Linked DNA regions of Homo sapiens: region 1 is linked to region 2. Evidence: fine-mapped expression QTL. Tissue or cell type: thyroid. Region 2 holds a variant in brackets; the other region holds the start of a gene. All regions are shown on one strand. Distances are from middle to middle.

Region 1 (2,689 bases), 21 kb after region 2:
TGTCAATGATGTCCAGAAGGTTCACGACTTGTTGAAAGGTACCTATGAAAACAAACGCCACCCAGGTGCAGTGTGGAAATGACCATGACAGGAGGTGCCCTTGTGTCCCTGGCCTTGCCTCCACCTGCGCAGCTCCAGCTTCATGTGTGGTATGATGTCCACTGTGCAGATGGAGAAAGGGAGACCTAGGCTGGGGCTGCAGTCAAAGAGTTAGTGTCTGAGATGGGGCAGGAAAGCAGAAATGTGGATGACATTCTTACCACTGTCATGTAATTCAAGAGGCCCCAGGTCGTCTCTTTCCTCTGACACCTCCTCACTTGAGGCTACTGCTGCTTCTGTAATGGCTTCAGTCATCTCTTCCTCAAGCTCTTTTGAGATCAACAGAATTTGTAAAATACGGGGTGTGACACACACCTTAAGATGACCCCAACGACCCACACCCTTCCATAAAGCCATCCCCTTGAGGGTGTGTGGGTGGAACCTGTGACTTCCTTCTAATCAACAGAATATGGCAAAGGTGATGGGTGACCCTCTCTCGAGTGGATTACATCATATGGCAAAGATGGTGGGATGTCATTCCCATGATCACACTATGCCACATGAGATTCCCTCTTATCAGATTGAACAGAAACATTCTACTGGCCTTGAAAAGTAAACAGCCATGATGCAAACTGCCTGTGGTGAGGGCCACGTAGCAAGGAACTGAGGGCCTCAGTCCTACAACCATAAGAAACTGAATTCTCCAATAAGCACATGAGCTTGGAAGAGGAAGCTGAACTCCAGAAAGGACTGCAGTCTCTGAGACCCTAAACAAAGGACCAAGGAAAGCCATGCCTAGACTCCTGGCCAGTGGAACCGTGAGATAATCAATGGATGTTCTTTTAAGCCACTGAGTTTATGATAATTTGTTACACAGCAATAGATAATATCCTTAGTTTAATAGAGCCCTCTCGCCCTCTCTTCTACACACTGATAATTAATGGCTAATGAGAAATTCATATCAGTATCTCTCATAACTCCTTTAAGGGGTTCTCTCAACATCCACAGCTTCTTAAAAATTGAGAAACACCAACATAGATGTCGAGATGGTGGAAGAAAGGCTCTCAGATCCTTTCTCCTCCTGTCCCAAGTTCCTTGATCCTCAAAGATCCATCCCATGGCCCTTTACTATCCCATACTCTCTTTTCCTTTAAAGGATTTTAAAGAGCTACTCTGGGACCTAAATACTGACCTTTCCTTAGGGTCTTCTTCTGGATTAAACAGATATTAACCACAAGAAAAAGCTCTGCTCTTGGCCCAATACACATCAATGGAAATGCAAATGGAAGAATTGGTTATCAAAGTGAGACAGCTGGGCTCTTCAGTCATATTTCTTATAGGAATGGGTCTCCTGGAAGGGTGGGAGGGTTTCACTAGAACTATCACCGTTAGATCCCAGACCCTCGGAACTTTGAGATCCAACTGCCTCCCTGAGTCTCTATCAACCCAGGTCTTTGAAGAGTGCACAGGGCTCTGGGGTGAAAACTCCACATCATGTTGTCATTCAACATTTCTGTTATTCACATGTGTGTGCTGAAGTACAGGGGCCTGTTTGGGAAAGGGAGATGGTAGAAGTGGGGATGGCTTACAACCAAGTCCCAGGGGAACACAGTCATGTGAGCCCTGGGTGGGGAGGTGTGGTCAGGACAGTTGGAGAGGAGAGGAGGGGCAGACTGAGAGGCCCTGGGGAGAGCACTCCTCCTTCCCGGGGACTGGATGACTTGCAGGATAAGAAATTGGATTTCCACTAGCACAATACTTACAAGATAAAGAACATCAAAGACAGGTAGGAGAGGAGGCACCCTGATTTCCTAAACCAAAAGTGGAGCCCAAAGGATTTCCCTGTCATTTATAGCTAGGAGAGATGATCCAGATCATAGGTACAACAATGAAATATTGGCCTTTGGGAAATCTTTCTATGCACTGCAAGACAACAGGAACAAAACTCAGAGACATCTAGGGCCAAGGTTGCTTAAGTGGAATTTCCACTCCAAGTTTGCCCATCCAGCCAAATGGGAGTTCCTCAGCCTGTGCTTGGACACCTCCAATACGAGGGAGCTCATTACTCTCAGGACCAGCCTCTTTCTACTTCATGGAATTCAGATGGTTAGAAAATGAGCTTTCTTATCATGCCCAACATTTCTTCCTCATAAAATTCCTGCGTTATTCCTTGTTCTGCACTTGGAGATACATTGATCAACATGAAATAGACACAAGCAGCTATCCCATGCCCCTTCTTTCACAGGACTGCCCCTCTGCACTACCTCCTCCCACTCCCCACTGAGCCTTCTTTTCCGTTTGAAAGATCACTGAGGTGATGTGGTTGCCAAGTCCATTCCACAGGCCCAGACTGCACGCCTACTGTGTGCAGCTAAGCATGGCTTTCCATGCTGCAGTGGATATAGGGTAGGTGGAACACATCTCTGTCCTCTGAAGGTCTTCAGACTCAACACATGAAAAGTGATACATTTAGAGCCAGAAGTGAATGTGTCAGCAATTGCTGTGTAACAAACCACCTCAAAACTTAATGACTGAAAACAACCGATTATTATAGTTCACAAGTGTATGAGTCACCTGCGTGGGTCTGTGGATCTGTGCTCTGTCCAGCCAAGCACAACTAGAGTCTCACCCATGTATCTCAGACAGCTAG
Region 2 (2,689 bases):
AATTAAACAAGATTGCACAGGTTGCACACCTAGTACAGTATACCTGCTATATGTGGGTGCCACATGGACTGTAGCTATGATGATGATGATGATTATTATTATTTCTGCAATTAAAAAAAGCTGTCGCTGGACAGGGATCATCTAGCCTGCAGCCTCAGTGAGTAATCATTCCCTCCTTGATGTTCTCATGGTACATTTTTCCTCTTATTGCTACGTCACATTTTGTTGCAATTAAAAGTTGACACATTTGTTTCTCCCATAGTCTGTGAACTCCTTCCACTCCTTCCCGTCATACTGAGTCCTCCTAGTGCACACTCCTCTGTCCTGTCTTTCACAGAGTTAGAACTCAATGAATGTTTACAAAATTAAACCATGAAAATCATTGGTCTACACACAGACACACACACACACACACACACACACATACACACACACACGGGCCTTAAAGTAATGGACACATTTCAGGTACTTGCTCAAATGATACAGACTGATACTGCCAGCCATGCTGAGGTCGTGCACTGCCCAGCCTCTAGGGGTACAGAGATGAAGAGTAAGTTCTCATCAAGGACCTGGCTTTGGAACTGGGTTTTGAGTAATTCCAGGCAACTGGAAGAGGAAGGCCCCTCAACACTCCAGACAGCAGGAACGGAAGAAGCAAAGATGTGGAATTCTGGGCATGTGTGGTTCACCCCCAGCCTGGCGTGGTGACCCACTGTGCGGGTGGGGCAGGGCCCACTCACGGTGGTCATCCCACTGACAGAAGAGGTAATGATCTTCACAGTGTCCATGGTGACTTTGTGGACCATCCTCTCCTCCAAGTCCCTCTGATAAAACTTCTCCCGGCGATTTGTCTGGAAGAAAGAACCAAGGGATTCCCACCTGTGGCCTAGCAGAGGTTTGTCGTGGTCTCAGGTGTGGTCTCCTCACTCCCCAGGGGCTCCATGCCCAGATACTGAGTCTACAGAATGCTCAGAGCTGTGCATATATCTAGGACCCCACACATTGTCACCTGCAGGTTCACTGTGTCTATGAACTCCTGTCATGAATGGATACGCAGGTTTGAACACAGGTA[C/T]GCTGAGTGGCATTCTCCCCTCAGCACTGTGGAAACCATTTCCAAGTCCAGCTGCTCTGCGGTCTGCGTATCAGGGCCACTCACCAGTTTGTAGGTGGATAAGGTCAGCTGCACAGACAGGTACTTCAGGCCCCAGCCTTTGATTCTCTCCTGGTAGCCACAGAGAGCCAACTGCCCAATGATGTGGAGAATAGCCATCCTCACCTGAGGGGACAGGACCGTGGACATGCTGGGGGTTGGGGTGGGCTCCAAGGCACCCAATCCTGTGACATAGAGAGCTAGGAATTGGGGGTGCTCTGGGCTAGAAGGGGCCTCAGGGACTACCTGATTACTGCCCACTCTGTCCACCTCCCCCTGCCTCATCCAGGGGTCCCACTCTGCAGCATGCCCACCTGGGAGCCTAATTGAGCCTTGGAGAGACACAAAGCTCCCTCCCTCCCTTCCAACCTCGGCTGCTCCATTCTAGCAGCCCTTGCCGTGGGGAGCCCATCTGTTATCCTGGACCCCCTGGGGCTTGCTCCATTGATGAGAATCACTATGTGAAGGAGATGCAGAACGAGCCTCTTCTCGCTTCCCTCCACAGCCTCCAGGGACTGAAGACAGCTCTGCCTAAATCTCTAGCCCCCATTCTCCTCCATTCCCTCTCTGATGTTCCTCAAAACTGCTGTGCAGACCCCTCACTATGCCGGACCTCCCTTCCCCAGCCCATGGCCAGAACCAAGCTCCACTCCAAGGTGGATGTGGCTGCCATGGAGCCTGGGACTGTGGTTTTCAGCCTTTTGAGGATGGGTAGAGGAGTACCCCTTAGTTGCTTTTTTCACATGCGATAAAGACCTCACAAAACCCTTGACAGCCAAGTGACTCTAGCTGCAGCTGGATTTACTCGGCCTCTGTTGGGTCCAAGGTGGTGCCTGAGACACACCACTCAAAAACTCTAGATCCATGGAGAGAATGAGGTCTCGAGAGTGGAACCTCAGCTTTCACTGGCCTCACCATTCTGCAGCCCCAGTCGAGACCCGATGGAAAGCCGGGTTTTCCATCAAAAGCCTCTGCCTCCCAGAGCCCAGACTTCCCTTTGCCTCCCTGGCAGGGTCCCCTGAGTGCCCCCCATTTCCAGGTCTCTGCCCTGTTACCTTGGACCGGGTATCAGAGATGGTGTTCTTGACTACCCGGATAGCCAGGTAGATGGCCCTGATACTCATCCTGGGCTCTGAAAGAGGAAAACTGGGTGGGCTGGAGGGCTGTGGCTCAGGGAGAGGTCAGGTGGCTCGTCCCACATCAGGGCCTCACGTTCTGTCTCCTCCCACATTCTCCAAGCTCAGGGGCACTTTCTTAGGAGCCTCCCTGGCCATGCTCTCCCTGGCCATCTCCCTCCCCTCTGTTGTTTCCACGCCTCGTTCCCTTGGCCACTGCTTTGTGTGTATCTCATTTGAACCCAGGTGAACTCGCCTTGAGGGCAAGATCTCTGCCTACGAGCTCTTTAGTGTCCTGCAGCTGGGCACAGAGCACTGGGCATGAAGTGGGCATGCAGTGGGCACACAGAGGTTGCAAAGCACCACCGTGAAGAGCATGGGTCCTGACACCAGGCCTTCCCTGGGTTCAAATCCTGGCTCCACC

Alleles and levels. Positions count from the first base shown, and alleles are read on the strand shown. Sizes are in standard deviations (SD) of each study's normalised expression.
As copies of C replace T in region 2, the expression in thyroid of the gene that starts at base 1,383 in region 1 goes down (large effect, 0.89 SD a copy in GTEx).

Evidence for each region. PIP is the estimated chance that this variant, and not a neighbour inherited with it, causes the effect.
Region 1: MROH2A starts here. The variant in region 2 is fine-mapped to the expression of MROH2A in thyroid (GTEx, PIP above 0.99).

What each region holds. Positions count from the first base shown.
Region 1 is chr2:233,777,024-233,779,712 of GRCh38, reverse strand. It overlaps MROH2A (maestro heat like repeat family member 2A), which reads right to left and starts at 1,383. Exons shown (of 42, transcript NM_001394639.1): 1 at 1,232-1,383; 2 at 261-368; 3 at 1-42. The coding sequence starts at 354.
Region 2 is chr2:233,798,367-233,801,055 of GRCh38, reverse strand. It overlaps MROH2A (maestro heat like repeat family member 2A), which reads right to left. Exons shown (of 42, transcript NM_001394639.1): 12 at 2,206-2,282; 13 at 1,157-1,276; 14 at 741-851. Among named protein-coding and RNA genes, the nearest start is that of MROH2A, 21 kb to the right of the region's middle. The variant C/T (reference allele first, on the strand shown) is at 1,073.